Regions from separate parts of the Homo sapiens genome. Here all the other regions are linked to region 3. Evidence: fine-mapped expression QTL. A gene starts in region 3. Each other region holds a variant in brackets. All regions are shown on one strand. Distances are from middle to middle.

Region 1 (5,225 bases), 70 kb after region 3:
TTTAACATGTAGCTTCCCAGAAAGAATGAATGAGGAATGTGTTTGTGAATGCCTCATGACATAAGCATCTGAAGAAGAGGGTCGTGGGCTGGGCGCGGTGGCTCACACCTGTAATCTCAACGCTTTGGGAGGGGAGGCAGGCAGATAACTTGAGATCAGGAGTTCGAGACCAGCCTGGCCAACACAATGAAACCGTGTATCTACTAAAAATACAAAAATTAGCCAGGCATGATGGTGTGCACCTGTAGTCCCAGCTACTCAGGAGGCTGAGGCAGGAGAATTGCTTGAACCCAGGAGGCGGAGGTTGCACTGAGCCGAGATCACACCACCGTACTCCAGTCTGAGCGACAGAGCAAGAATCTGTCTCAAAAAAAAAAAAAAAAAAAAAAGAAGAGGGTTGTGGTAGCGAGGAAGAGCCTCTGCCTGAACTAAGGTGAGTAGCCAAAACCTTTGACTGTATTATCCCCTTCTCCCAGGATCACACAAGAGGAGTTTGAGCCTTGGTGATAAAGAAATAAGCCGTTCTTCTCCTTCTCCAGCTTTGGAGCAGCCTTTCAGAGACCGTTCCAATACTCTGAATGAGAAGCCCGCCCTGCCCGTCATCCGAGACAAGTACAAAGACCTGACGGGAGAGGTGGAGGTGAGAGGAGAGCTTTCTACAAGGGGTGGGTAACAGACCAGCAAGCACACAGGGCCCCAAGAAAGAATGCTGTCAGCTTTCACATGGGGAAAATGAGGGGCAGAAAGACACAAAGCACCAGACATAAACTATGTAATTAAAGTGAGGCAAGGGTAACATTAGCCCTGGGTGAAAACATTTCCCAGGTGTGGCACCCACTGAAACTAATCAGTGACCCTAAAACCAAAACTATTCATGGGACTTCACAAGGATGGCAGTGTTTGTATAATTCTTCTTGAGCACTTAGACTTTATTGTCTTCATGAAACCTCAAAATAGAGGAGACAGGGAAAATATTCTGAATTTTTTATTTCTGTCTGCTGCATCTTAGTGCCACGCTATGTTCCTCCTATGGTCAACACACTTAATTTCCCACCTTTCCCTACTCCTTGTTACATGTGCACATGGGCCACGTCCTCACACACAGCCACACAGCGTTATAACTGGGGCGTGGAAAGCCAGTGGCTTAATAGCAGTTTCTGTACCAGATAGCTACATGCTGAGTGCCTCCGAAGAAAGGCTTACACTGTTACTGATGGAACAAATGAGGCAACACTCACAGGGGGAAGCTGCTGGAAAGCATGTCCCTTAGACTCACAGGTCCTGTGCTCAGAAGTTACATTTATTAGTAATTTAACATAGTTATTAGTGAGTTCAAAAAGATAAACTGCGGCTGGGCATGGTGGCTCATGCCTGTAATCTCAGCACTTTGGAAGGCCAAGTCGGGCAGATCACTCGAGCTCAGGAGTTCAAGACAAGCCTGAGCAACATGGTGAAACCCCACCTCTACCAAAAATACAAAAATTAGCCTCATGTGGTGGTGCGTGCCTGTAGTCCCAGCTGCTCTGGAGGCTGAGGTGGGAGGATTGCTTGCGTCCAGTGCAGTGAGCAGAAATCATGCCACTGCACTTCAGCCTGGGCAACAGAGCAAGACCCTATCTCAAAACAAAAACAAAAACAAAAAAAACATAAACTGCTTGAACTAGAGTGATCGTAATAAAAAGGAAAGTCCTCCAAGCACTTTGAATTGACAGAGTCATCAATAGAAGATTCCAGGTTTGTGTGTTTAACCCAGTTCTTTTTAACAAATTCACAGGAAAATGAGAGATATGCATATGAATGGCAGAGATGCCTGGGGAGTGCCCTGAATGTGAGTATGTCACTTACGCGTTCACACATATGTGAGTGCTCTTTTGTGCCTTTTTGCCTTCTTGGTTCATTTGAATTGACAGAGGCAAACTTCAGGAGAGCCTTACTTGGATGTCCCTGGGCAAAGAGTAACTCTGTGGAAGTCATGCATCTAAGGTGAGGCTTCTTTCACACTTACAATAGCAGACCGGCTCATGTGTCAGTCATCCCCTCATCTGTCATTGTGTTTAAGAAATAACAAAGTGATTTCATTAACTCTGACTAAATCAAAATAATATTTAAGCTAAAGAACCTGTCTTGGCTGGGTGCGGTGGCTCAACACCTATAATCCCAGCACTTTGGGAGGCCAAGGCGGGCGGATCACGAGGTCAGGAGTTTGAGACCAGCCTGACCAACATGGTGAAACCCTGTCTCTACTAAAAATGCAAAAATTAGCCAGGCGTGGTGGCACGTGCCTGTAATCTCAGCTACTCAGGAAACTGAGGCAGGAGAATCACTTGAACCCGGGAGTC[A/G]GGGGTTCAGTGAGCCGAGATCTTGCCACTGCACTCCAACCTGTGCTACAGAGCGAGACTCCGTCTCAAAACAAAGCAAAACAAAACAAAAGGAAAAAAACATATTTTCTCTTCCAGAGAAATGGAGGATTGTTTCTTCAAGGATAAAATGAGATTTTTTGACACCTCCTGGCTTTTCGGTTGGGTTTTCTACTAATAGTAAATTGATTTGCAATGACTTTTCTCAGTTATGTAAGGTGATGTGATTTCATTTCTTGTAGGTCATTAAGAAGGCAAATGATACCTTAAATGGAATCAGTAGTAGTTCTGTTTGCACAGAAGTAATTCAGTCAGCTCAAGGCATGGAATATTTATTAGGTATGTTCTTTCATATTTTACTATTGAAAATGATGGCCCTTTGCATTATTTTCAGTTTTCCCTTTAATTATTTTAAGCTAGATCTCTCAAGTTACATATGACTTCAGTAAGAAGCATCTGTATTTGTGGGTAAGACACTCAAGCTACAGGCAGTAAACTATTGGACTTAATTAAAAAGTCTCTATGGCTAAGTTTCCTCATCCTTGTTATATACGTAATAGCAAAAATGTAAAATTATATCTGTGTTACTGGTTTATCAAAGAATCTGAACTACCGATGCACTAAAGTAAAATCATCTTGTCTCCCATCAATTCCTTACCATACTCTATATTCTTTCTCTCGACCGCTTAATGACACCACAGAGTCCTTAACCTCCTGGCCATCTGCAGCAATTTGATGTGTCAGTCCAACGGGAAAGTGTAGTCTCTGTCCACTTCGGTGTTCCTCCCTTCCCCAAGCTCAGGCTTGGCCCGTGGCCAGAGCCACACATGCTGGACCCTAATCTTTTTCAAATCTTTACTCAAATGTCAGCTTCTGAGTGAAATCTTTCCTAGCATCCATCTCTCCAAAGAGTATCGTCTCTCCCTACCCCGGTACTTCCCATCCCATTCTCTGCTGGATTTTCTCCTTAGCCCTATTACCTTTAATTTCTTACATATGTTACTTATTATTCTTTTCTTTTCTTTTCTTTTTTAAGACAGGTTCACACTCTGTCACCCAGGTTGGAGTGTAGTGATGTAGTCATGACTCACTGCAGCGTCCACCTCCCAGGCGCAAGCAATCATCCCACCTCAGCCTCCCAAGTAGCTGGAACCACAGGTGTGCACCACCATGCACCCAGCTAATTTTTGTAGTTTTTGTAGAGACAGGTTTCCGCCATGTTGCCCAGGCTGGTCTCGAACTCCTGAGCTCAAGCGACCCACCCACCTTGGCCTCCCGAAGTGCTGGGATCACAGGCGTGAGCCACTGCACCTAGCTACTTGTTGTTTTTACTCTCTGTCTCCCTTCACTAGAATGAACCTCCAAGAAGGCAAGGATTTTGGTCTGTTTTGTTCACTGGTGTGTCCCCAACACCTAATCTAGTGTCTTGCACGTAGTTGGCACTCAAAAATATTTGCTGGATGAGTGGAGAGTGAAGGGATGTAGTCTCTGCCTTACTCCTGCCACCTCACTTGGGGTCTTCTTTTCCTGCTCAAACAGGCACAGTTCTGCATAAGCAGATGTCCACCAGGAAATGGGGCACCTGTCTTTTCTCCTAGTATCCTTGTATCTATGGAAGATTCTCTTAGAAGCCCCCTCACTTGGCTTAGGGTGGGCAGTAATTTCTGCCCCTCTCTTGGGAAAGGAAGAAGAAAAGCCGTAGTGCTGACACAGGGCTGCTGAGGCCCCGCTCTGAAGATCCCCTGGAATTCCTCCAGTGTTCACTTAGAGAGATCGGGGTCATGTCTTTGGTGACTGTTACATTGCAGGGGTTAGGGATGTGTCTGGTGGCTGTCCTTAGAATGTGGAGGTACTTAGCACCTCTCATCCTTGCTTCAAGAGTTCAACCACAATTTAGAGACCATAGGAAAAGAACTGTTCTGCATCCTGTTATGTGTTTAAAGATAAGTGAAGTCAAAGTGTTTGTAAGACCTTCAGATTCAGAGGGGTGAGATGTTTCTTCATTACTTTGTGATGCTATTAACATTTAGATTCTTTTAAATTTTTACTATCCCCATTTTCAGCTAGTTTATTGGGATTTCCCAGATTCAAACAGATGGACTCATAAATAAACCTCCCAAAAAACAAAAGCTAATAACTTGCATAGTGCCTGCCATTCTCCAAGCACTGTTGTAAGCCTTTTACCATATTACCCTATTTAATCCTCTCAACCATCCTTGGAGGAGCTACTGTTACCATCCCAACTTCACAGATGAGGAAACTGAGGTACAGAGAGATTATGTGACTTGCCTAAGGTCATGTAGCCAGTAAGAGGCATAGCTGGGGTTTGAACCCAAGCAGTGCAGCTTCTATGCTCTTACCAGTAAGCTATACAGCAGCATTGAGAAGTGGATTGGTCCCAAAGAATAGTAAGTACACCTCTGTCCAGATACACCCATTGTTTCTCACAGATATCAGCAAGCAATAATGCTCCCCTGTCTGGGTCCTCTGTGTCTCCACTGCCAACACTCTCTCTCTGCTCTCTCATCCCGTCAGGTGTTGTTGAAGTGTACAGGGTAACCAAGCGTGTGGAGCTGGGGATAAAAGCCACTGCAGTGTGCAGTGAGAAACTCCAGCAGTTGCTGAAGGACATCGATAAAGTATGGAATAACCTAATCGGCTTCATGTCACTCGCCACACTCACAGTAAGCCCATGAGACAACTCAGCAGTTGCTTTCCTTTCCAGAAACCTAAGTTGTAAAGCAGAGTGTATATTCCTATGATGGTACTTATTAGAGGCTGGAGGTGCCAACTGGAGCATGTTATATTAAAGGAGGGAGATCACAGGTGTGTGGTCAGTTGAACAGTACCAGGTGGGCTTCTGATCTC
Region 2 (5,225 bases), 94 kb after region 3:
TTGCTGCTTTTACATAATTTATTTTCCCCTCTCAGGACAAATTCTGTCTTGCTCCATCTTACAGCTTTTCCATGTTCTCCAAGAAAGGTGTGGAACATTTTCATTAAACAGCTGTTGCTGAGGCTTCTGCTTGACCTTCTGCGTGCCCGAATGCACAGAGAGGCACCGAGGAGAGAAAGGCTTTTCTCACTCGCTCCCGATGATACCGTCTCTGGCCATTCCTGACTGAGGCAGCTCACTCTGAATGGGCACCTTTGGAGCTTTTGCCCACCACAAGGCTAGTGGGGTGTTTCTAACAACACAAGTGGGACAGCTTTTGGCAGGCTTTTCCTGAGGCCTCGGCGCTTCCATCCTGGACAGCACCACTTCCACATGGAGCTGGAATGCAAGCAGGCTGCTAATTGGCCTTAAAAATTCTTTGTTTTTTTTTGAGATGGAGTTTCACTCTTGTTGCCCAGGCTTGAGTGCAATGGCACAATCTCAGCTCAGTGCAACCTCCGCCTCCCGGGTTCAAGCGATTCTCCTGCCTCAGCCTCGTGAGTAGCTGGGATTACAGGCGTGCACCACCACGCCCAGCTAATTTTGTATTTTTAGTAGAGGCAAGGTTTCTCCATGTTGGCCAGGCTTGAACTCCGGACCTCAGGCGATCCGCCCGCCTCAGCCTCCCAAAGTACCGGGATTACAGGCGTGAGCCACTGCGCCTGGCCTAAATTTCATAACAGAACCATGACAGCAGAATCTACCTTTGCAATAAGAATGTTTCCCAGGAGTTAGAGACCAGCCCTGGGCATGATGGTAAAGACCCCAGCTAATTATACAAAAAATAATTAGCCGGGTAGGTGGAGTGCATCTGTGGACATTCGTGGTCCCAGCTACTAGGTAAGCTGAGGCGGGAGATCACAAGTCCAGGAGTTTGAGGCTGCACGTGACAGCGTAGGTGATGACAGAGCGAGACACTGTCTCTTAAAAAAAAAAAAAAAAAAGTTTCCCAGTTTGAATTTGTATTGCTGAAGCATTTTTTTGAAATGCTATATAGATGCCTGTCATGTCACAGTGGCCCAGTATCAACATTTTAAAAAGCTCACTTGGTAGCTGGGCTGGTTTCTATTCCTGAGAAATTCCAGAATGCCTCAGATAAAATTCCTTAGTATAATCCCCATTTTCCTTACCAAGGATGGTAGGCTTAGTCACTCCTTGGGAGGTGCCACAGGAAAATTCAGCAGATGTCAACAGAAAAAAAGCCTTTGCTATGAAAAGTATTCACTACCTTTCATATCTCTTGAATACTTGAAATGTTTAATTAGATGCCACCAATAGGGATCCAAGGAGTGTGGGACACGGTTGCGCTGCTTTTCTTTATAAACGTTTATTAAAATGGCTCAACGCTGCATTCAGCTTCACCTCAGCTCTTCTTGTCAGCCAGGAGCCCCGTGTCCTTGGAAACTGTAGCCAAGGTTACTTATTTCCATACTGTGCATTGTGTCAGCCCGCTTCACCCCACTGCTTGAATGGCCATTAATAAGCACTTTTCTTTTTTTGGTGGGATGTTTTGCCTTTAAAATTTTTATGGCTTAGTGTGTAATTTAATTTTTGTCTGGACATGCTTGAGATAGAAGAGGTACTGGATATATGAGGATATTTTCCATGCTTTATTTTTCCTGTGGCTACTAGTTAGCATTCCATAGGGGTTGTGAATTTTTAATTATTTGAATATTTTGTGTACATATACATATTTGAAGGGTTTTGGGGGGGTCTTATTTGTTTAAAGGTGTCTTCTGTTTGCCTATTTCAAGTGTACTTCAGCTTTGCAAAGATTATAGGGCTGTATGTTACAGAAATAGGAAATGCTGGCCCTGTACTGGGGACCACTACAAAAATTCCCTTTAGCCGGGCGTGGTGGCTCACGCCTGTAATCCCCAGCACTTTGGGAGGCCGAGCCGGGTGGATCACCCGAGGTCAGGAGTTCAAGACCAGCCTGGCCAACATGGCGAGACCCTGTCTCTACTAAAAATACAAAAATTAGCTGGGCATGGTGGCAGGTGCCTGTAATCCGAGCTACTCGGGAGGCTGAGGCAGGAGAATTGCTTGAACCAGAGAGGCGGAGGTTGCAGTGAGCCGAGATCGCGCCACTGCACTCCAGCCTGGGCAACAAGAGCGAAACTCTGTCTCAAAAATAAAAAATTCCCTTTAACACCTTCAAGGTCAAATGCCTGCCTTTGTGAACAGTTAATAAACT[G/TTG]ACATTTTCAGACATTTGCCATTCAGAAGGGAGCATTGTAGCCTGCTGTAGACCATTCCAGCAAATGTCAGAATGCAGGGCAAGATGTGTGTCGACTATGTTTTTTATGTTTAAGTTACTTACTTATTTCTTCAGGTAAGTGTGTACCAAATAACAATACTGAAAAGCCCTCCCCTTGCCAGGCCGAGGAAATAAAGCTTAAGTGAAACAGCTCTTGGGGGAAAAATGCCACTTTACAAATACTTTTCTAACAAAATAGCATTATAATGAAGTTTTTACTTAATTCCATTATTTATATGTTGACGTGAATGTAAGTGGTTAAAAAGTATTCATGTGGGACATCTCATTACTTTGTAGCTGTGGCTTTATTAACCAGTGAATGCTGTGGCCCTTAGCGAAATGCGTTGTCTTCTGCGTGATGTGGAATTCGCGCCTGTATTTTAAAAGATGGTGTGGTTTCTCCCTTGTTTGTATTTTAATAAACAACTGCTCTAATTGATGTGTTTAGACATTATAAAGCTTTACCTTTAAAATATTTTCAGGGTCTGTTCTGAAATCACCCCTTGTTAAACTTCTCTAACCAAAATACAAGTGTAGAAGAATGTCAGGCTACTAAGCCTTTTCTTGGTCTTGTCTTTGTTGGGTTGATTTCACATAGATGCAAGTCACTAGGATGAACAGGGGCCCATGCGCTTAAGATTACAAAGGTGTTCAGCTTCCCACGTGCGAGGAACTCTTAGTTACAGCCCCGTAGTGCTGCTTGCCAGGAATTCTACAGGTAATTTTCATTAATTACCAAGAACATCTGTCACCAGGTGTCTTCTCGCCCTAGGACAATGGTTATTTGGGTGCTCTTATTCAGAAACTCCCAGACTCAAAGCTGAGCCTCCTACTAAAGCAGCCAGAGCCTCCCTGGATTTTTTTTTTTTTTTTTTTTTTTTGATCTTATAGCATTTGTTGTTTCCTCTGATTTCCCATAGAAACTATTAATAATTTTTTTCATTTTAGTTTTTCTAGAGAATAATGATGCATGTTTATAACAGTGGGCAGCCACGGGTATAAAGCAATAAAAGGTAGAATTTAGATGGGAAAAAACCATTGCCACAAACCAGGTAAAATGTGGAGTATATTTGTCTAAATATGTAGCTACTGGCCTATGTATGGCTTCCTGCCAAAACTGACCCAAAAAATCTAGAAAACTATTCCTCTGGTGAGCAAGCTACAACCTTCCTGATAAATGAAGCCAAAGAGCAGTGCCGCAGCGGGTTCCCATTGCACGGGCAGACGCCCAGGATGCCCTCCATGCAGAAGAAAGGCATGCCCTAGGACAGTGGTTACTTGGGGGCACGTGGAAAGTGCCCAGGAGTGTCCCAGGAGTGGGACAGGGGCGAGCTCATTCACCTTCTACCATGTATCTGATGATGATGAGCGGTGCTGCCCGTTTTATCAGGAGCAGTGAACTGGGTGACAGACAGTCCCAAAGTTAAACAAAGGCAGCCATTGTTTGTTTTTGTTACTTGCTTATCGCTCATACTGAGGTTTGGTTTAGGGCATTTTCGTATGTGGTAATAATAGTCAAGCAGAGGCACCTTTTATTGAAAACCAGTTTCTCTGATGGAGGACACGCTGCTTCGGGGCGCTCCACTAACCAAGAGGAAACCAAAACCAGCACCCCTGATCAGAGCGTGCACTATCAATCATCTCCCACCGGCCCAGCACCGGGGACGGTGTGTCTGCCTGTCCACCAGGATGTGACGCGCCGACAAGACTCTGCTGGGATGTGTATTTTAAGTAATGTTCCCAACTGGCACAGGAGCCACATTTCAGCAGTTAGTTAGTTAGTTACTGGAGAGCACCTTTTTCCCATCATCGACACACACACACCTTGAAATTATTAGTAAAAATTCTAATATGTTAAGCATATAGATTTATTAAAAATAATGCTAATATAATCCTGGGCACATGGATTCCAAGAGAGATTTTGCAGCAGATTTCATTATAGTTACTTAACAGCTAAATAATAAGGGTGTATTTAACTTACTTACAGAGTCACTAAATAATGGAGGGGAAAGGAAAGAGTAGGGCTAATCCAGTAGAGACTGAAGCTGGTTATCAACCTTCCCTAAGCATCTGTCTGGTCCGCAGCCTGGGGCAAAGCTTGTCTCTAAAGGGTTAATGAGGCCCCAAAGTGATTTTTGCACTGAGCTCCTCCTGCACCTACCAAGGTGCCAAAGGCATGAGATTCAGAAGAGAGCAGAACCAGTTTATTAAACTGTTCAAATTGGTAAAAATGATTAAAAGCTAAAGATTTCCATAAACACTATTCCAAAATGTTAATTTTAAAAATGTGACTAGCAATGTATGCATTCCCTTTATGTCCCCTCCCTCCCTATCTCTTAAAATAAATTTGAACACCCAGTGTAAAAAACACTTGAGGGAGAACCAGAAGTCAGCCATTTGAGAAGAGAGTGGAGAGGGAGCAGACGGCGGGGAGCAGATGCCGGCCCCGCTCGGGCTGCTGACGCAGGCTTCAGTGGCACTAAATCCCCCAGTAAGGCATCAGGTGTCGGGACTCCTTCTCATAGACGTCGGGAACTATGCCATAAGGTGTCTGTACCATTTTAACTGTCGACTTCCCAAAGAGCTGGCGCTCGTAGTCTATCAGTTGCCTCCAGAAGCCTACGTTGGGCCTGATGACAGGTCGCCGGGCTTTCACCCAGTTGTACGCCTCCAGCAGGCACACGTTGTGGAATTTCATCAGGTACGCGATACACAGCGTGGCTGAGCGGCTCACCCCTGCAGCACAGTGCACCAAGGTGGCCCCGTGCTTCCTGCTCACACTGTGGATCTTGTCAGCCACGGTGTCAAAGTACAGTCCAATGGGGGCATGCGGCATGTCAGCCAGAGGCACTTTAACATACTCAAATTGGGGCCAGTTGAAATTAGGGATCTCAATGGTAGCATTAACAATGCAGGTGATGCCACGAGC
Region 3 (5,225 bases):
ACACTTAGCCTAAAATGCAAATGTACAGCTGTAGAAAAATACTTTATTTCTTTATATCCTTATTCTAGAAGCTTTTTTTCTATTAATTTTTGTTTGTTTGTTTTGTTTTACTATTTACTTCTAAAACTTTTTTGTTAAAAACCATGGCACAAACACACACATTATGCTAGGCATACAAAAGGTCAGGATCATCAGTCTCACTGTCTTCCACCCCCACTTCTCATCCCACCATTGTATCTGCTGTCTGTGGCTGACCAAAACATCATCATGTAGCACATGACTAGTGTGGCAAGTGCTCTGTTAGATGTAAGGCCATGATGCTAAAGCATCACAAGAGGGCATCTAACCCAGATTGGGGATGTCATGGAAGGCCGACATCCTGAGTTGAATCCTGCAAATGTAAAAACCAATAGGCAAAGAAGAGGAACAAAAAGGATTCCAGGACAAACTGAGGTCACATCTATGATCCTTGACTTTATTGTGTCTGTTTAAAGTATCTACAGTAACCTGTATCAACTTAGTCAGTGTATTAATACTAAATTTAGCTCCTTCAAAGCAGTTGGAACTATGTGCTACATAAATTTCAGCTTCACACAAGGAAGGGAAGGAGTGAAATTAGTGAACAGGCAGTTACAGCAAAAGAAAAAACATAAAAATTGAATAGCTGGCTCTGGTGAAATGAGCAAGGACTTTAGAGTCAAACTGGCCTGGATTTGAATCCTGATCCTCATTGCTTGTAGCTGTATGATCTGGACAAATGACAGTAACTGTTTCTAACCTTGATTTTCTCATCTGTAAGATGCCAATTGTAACTCCTAAGGATACTGAGGATTTTTTAAAATGCGTGTACAGTTCCTGACCAGTGGTTTGTGCCTAATAACTTATTACAAATTATTACCCAGTAAAAACCTTGAGACAAGAGTGAAAACGTAAAGCTAATTAATCCATTACTTGTTAGCAAGCAAACTACGTGCTTGAGAAAATTACTCAACTTTCATGTTTTACTTCCAGACAGTAGTTTGATTAAAAGAAAAAAAAAAATCACAGCCCAGGCATGTGGCTCACACCCTGGCACTTGGAGGCCGAGGTGGGAGCATAGCTTGAGCCTAGCAGTTTGAAACTAGCCTGGGCAACATAGATCCTATCTCTACAAAAAAAAAAAAAAAAAAAAAAAAAAAAATTGGCCCGGTGTGGTGGTGCATGCCTGTGGTCCCAGCTACTCAGGAGGCTGAGGCGAGAGGATCGCTTGAGCCAGGGAGGCTGAGGCTGCTGTGAGCCATGATCATGCCACTGCACTCCAGCCTGGACAACAGAGCAAGACCCTGTCTCAAAAAAAAAAAAAATCAGTAAAAAATATGCCGAAATAGCTTCAGAGTAATTATGAATTGCCTTCCAAAAACCACTGTTTTGCACTTGCCTGCAAGAATAGGAAAAACAAAAGGACTGTAAGGTGGCAGGATGGCAGAACCAAACAAGAGTAGTACACCTTGGAGTTTTTTCGAAATATGGGTTGGGTTTTTGGGCTCTTGGTTGATTTAAAATAAAATTTAAATGCCTTCAGCGTCTGTGATAGGTGCCAACATGAAGCTACCGAGTTCCAGAGAAAGAGGGGAGAGCTGATCACTCATCAGTGCTGCGAGACTATCAAAGGGCCCTTCAGGACCTATCTGTTCTTTGTGTGTAAAGAGTAACAATAAAAGAACACCAGTGTACCCACCGTATAGTTTAAAAATCAGGACTCAGCCTACTCTTTCCACTAACCGCGATCATGGTTTTCAAACGGAGGACCAACGGCGCTTTGCCACTGGGCCGCCAGCTGGGCCCTGCAGAGGGCCTACCAGACAATGAATCAGCTCCCTTGGAGAGGCGCCCGCGACCGCCCCACCAGCCCGAGAGCTAGAATTGAATCTGGGGGACCCCTGCGGCGCCGGGTCACGTGCCGTGGGCGCGCCACGCCTCCCCGAGGGCCGGGGGAGTCACGTGGGCGCGAGGCCCCGCCCCATCGCCCGGTCCGCGGCGAGGTGGGGCCTGGTGTTTGACCCGGAAGTGGCTGTGTTCAGCTGACAGCTGCTGATAAGGTGGCGGCGGCGAAGGCAGCGGCAGGTCGGGAGCAAGATGGCGCTGCGGCCAGGAGCTGGTTCTGGTGGCGGCGGGGCCGCGGGAGCTGGCGCGGGGTCCGCCGGGGGAGGCGGGTAGGTGTGAAGAGCCGGGCGGGAGCCCGCTGGCCTCCGCGGGGGCGGCGAGGGGCGCTTGGCAGTTATGGCAGTTTTCTCCAGCCCTGATCCTTTTCCTTGGAACTGGGCTGCGGGAGGAGGGTCATCCCCCAGGGACCCAGGCCGAAAGGGGCGTGTGGAGCCCAGGTGCTGGACGCTGGTGTTCCGGGATCAGTTGGGGGCGCCGGCCGCCTGGAATCGAGCGGGGAGCGAGCGCGCGCCCAGTGTGGGAGGGGAGAGAAGATGAGGGTCCTCTTGGGGTGGGGGGGGGCGGGGCAAATCAGGAACCGCGACTCCGCTCCTAGTCCTAGCTGCCTCTGAAGCGACCAGGGTCTTCCCTTTCCTTGGGCTTTCTAGACTTAACCGGATATGTTGGAGGGAGGGCTTTAAAAATCTGTTCACAAAGCTGGAGGACTGTTTCCAAGGGGGGTGTGTGTGTGGACTATTTGTCTCTTCCCCTTTTAGAGTGTCCTGTCCTCTTTATTTCCTTAACCCGCGACAAACAGCAGGAACATCTAAAGACCTCTGAATTAGTAATGGTCTTGAGATAGAGTTCTTGTCTTGTACACTAACTCTTAAGACTTGTCTGTCTTCTTTTTAAAAAGGCATTTAAAAACAAAGAAAGTGCACTGTTAAACAGCAGTTGCGCATTTATTAGAACAAAGCTTCCAGACTCAGCCCTTAAACAAATCTGCCCTCTGCCACATTTCAGCCAAGAACTGCCGTGGTTCTTATACCCAGAATGGTAAGGGAGATGTACGTTTTACAAGCTGACAGATTCGTTATCATTTAAGGAAATATTTTATTCTAGGAAGTTTTCACTCCACTTCTATAATGACCTAGTCTGATTTTGTTTTACTAACCAACACACAACAGCACACACATTTGGAGGTAAAAGTAGCTTTGCATCTTCAGTATCCTAAATTGTCTTTGGAAAACGAAGTGTTAGGTTTTTTTTTTATATGCAGTGTTTCAATTTCGGAGTCGTGAACACTACAAAAGTGTAAGGACCTTAAAGTTATCACCTCTTGCAGGTGCTTGTCAGGAAACGAGCAGTGGCTGTTCAATAAACCACCTGTGTGTAACCCCATTTTTCATTTCCTCTGCACATCTTTAACTTTAGATTTTTAAACTTTTTGCTTTCTCTTTTGTTCTCTCCGTTGTTTCATTAGAGGGTTTTTTAAAAAATAAATACTTCGTGTAAGCCAGTTTCTGGCTGGAGAAGAAACATATGTAATAATTCCCTTCTATTTGTTTTTTCTTTTTCTTTTGTCTTGTTTTTTTTTTTTTTTTTTTTTTTTTGAGAGGAAGTCTTGCTCTGTTGCCCAGGCCAGAGTGCGGCGGCGTGATCTCGACCCGCTGCAACCTCTGCCTCCTGGGTCCAAGCGATTCTCTTGCCTCAGCCTCGGAGCAGCTGGGATTACAGGTGCGCGCCACCATGCCCGGCTAATTTTGTTGATTGATCGATTGAGACAGAGTCTCGTTCTGTCACCCAGGCTAGAGTGCAGTGGCACGATGTCGGCTCACTGCAACCTCGACCTCCCGGGTTCAAGCGATTCTTCTGCCTCAGCCTCCCAAGTAGCTGGGATTACAGGCGTGCGCCACCACGCCCAGCTAATTTCTGTATTTTTAGTAGAGACGGGGTTTCACCATGTTAGCCAGGCTGGTCTCAAACTCCTGGCCTCAAGTGATCCGCCCACCTTGGCCTCCCAAAGTTCTAGAATTACAGGCTTGAGTCACCACGCCCGGCATCCTCTATTTATTTCCTATATGTGATTACAGTTTCTAAAATGTCCCTGGATGGTATTAATTTGATCAAGTATATGATTAATCATGGCACCAAGTTCTGGGAAAATGTAAACTTAGAAGAATTGATATCTAGGCCCAAATTTTTATTTACTTAAAAAATGTTTTTGGATGGGGAGGACCTCAGGTTCAGAAATTCAAGTGCATTATTCCCTTTAGTTTGCAGTATTTGAGTATCATTGGTCCATGGACACAAATTTTTAAAATAAATATGGGTTGAATTTTGATAGAAATTAGAATGATTTTAAAATTTCCCCCCTTTGTAAATGTAGCAACATCTGCATTCTAAAACTGTAAACGATATACAGGAGAGAAAGAAGTGGTTAAAATGATTCTTACCTTGAAAAATGTATGGTACATATGTTACATATATTGGCAACTTTCTGAGGCTGAGAAGCTGTATCCTCAATAGAAAAAGGAATATTATTTTTTTTAGAGAGTAATGGTGTAAAGGCTGAAGTTATTTTATTTCCTTTTTAATTTTCTTTTTGCCACCCACCCTCCCTGAAATTATTTTATAAGGAAACTTAACATTATGGCAACCTAAGTATATTTGAAGAAAAAAAACAGGCAACTTCTCTACACCTTTAATGGAGAAAATCCATGAACTATAACTGACTGTATTGTTTAGATACTTCTCTATATTCTAAGAGGCTAAGCAAAACACAATAACGTTTTCCAAATTTAATATTACCCTACTTTTGATTGGTGTCCTGGATGAGCTACTTTAGAATAAATGGTAGAGTTGTATAAAGGGCAAAATTTGCCCAAGAGATGAGAAGTATAAATTTTTTTTTTCTTTAATCAAGGCAGAAAAAAAAAAGAGTTGAAAGATCTGGATTAGTCTGTAGTCATTGAATGCTTACATGGGTAAGGTACTGTTCTTGATGCTGTAATGAATTAAAAAGACATCAAAACATGGTCCCCATCCTTGGAGAATGTACAAAATAACTGTGGTACAAAGTAAAGTGGAACAAAGAGGTCACGTTCTTCTGGGATGTTATCATCTGTGAACTTGTCTATTTTTTCCTGATCTTTTACAAGCTTTTAGAGGGCTTCCTCATCTTTTCTTCTTTCACTGCTTCTAGCACATTTTTGCACATAAAAAACATTCTGTAAATATTTGTGGATTTCAGCTATATCAAAGGCAAAGAAGTGGTATTTCATTTGGCCCACAGAGTTAGAGGAAGAGGAAGCGGTCAAGAG

Direction of the effects. Positions count from the first base shown, and alleles are read on the strand shown. Sizes are in standard deviations (SD) of each study's normalised expression.
With allele G in place of A in region 1, the expression in lymphoblastoid cells of the gene that starts at base 2,053 in region 3 is higher (moderate effect, 0.46 SD a copy in GEUVADIS).
For the expression in kidney cortex of the gene that starts at base 2,053 in region 3, allele G in region 2 goes with a higher level than allele TTG (moderate effect, 0.75 SD a copy in GTEx).

Evidence for each region. PIP is the estimated chance that this variant, and not a neighbour inherited with it, causes the effect. A credible set is the group of variants that fine-mapping cannot tell apart.
Region 1: its variant is the best candidate, but not a certain one, in a credible set for the expression of SYNRG in lymphoblastoid cells (GEUVADIS, PIP 0.78).
Region 2: its variant is the best candidate, but not a certain one, in a credible set for the expression of SYNRG in kidney cortex (GTEx, PIP 0.87).

Annotation. Positions count from the first base shown.
Region 1 is chr17:37,535,795-37,541,019 of GRCh38, reverse strand. It overlaps SYNRG (synergin gamma), which reads left to right. Exons shown (of 22, transcript NM_007247.6): 16 at 477-640; 17 at 1,775-1,828; 18 at 2,600-2,696; 19 at 4,893-5,041. Among named protein-coding and RNA genes, the nearest start is that of DUSP14, 49 kb to the right of the region's middle. The variant A/G (reference allele first, on the strand shown) is at 2,340.
Region 2 is chr17:37,512,420-37,517,644 of GRCh38, reverse strand. DUSP14 (dual specificity phosphatase 14) reads right to left here. Exons shown (of 3, transcript NM_007026.4): 3 at 4,147-5,225. The coding sequence ends at 4,776. SYNRG (synergin gamma) reads left to right here. Exons shown (of 22, transcript NM_007247.6): 22 at 1-2,838. Among named protein-coding and RNA genes, the nearest start is that of DUSP14, 25 kb to the right of the region's middle. RefSeq lists an enhancer at 4,475-4,988 and a silencer at 4,747-5,137. The variant G/TTG (reference allele first, on the strand shown) is at 2,237.
Region 3 is chr17:37,606,246-37,611,470 of GRCh38, reverse strand. It overlaps SYNRG (synergin gamma), which reads left to right and starts at 2,053. Exons shown (of 22, transcript NM_007247.6): 1 at 2,053-2,192. The coding sequence starts at 2,116. It overlaps DDX52 (DExD-box helicase 52), which reads left to right. Exons shown (of 15, transcript NM_007010.5): 15 at 1-1,732.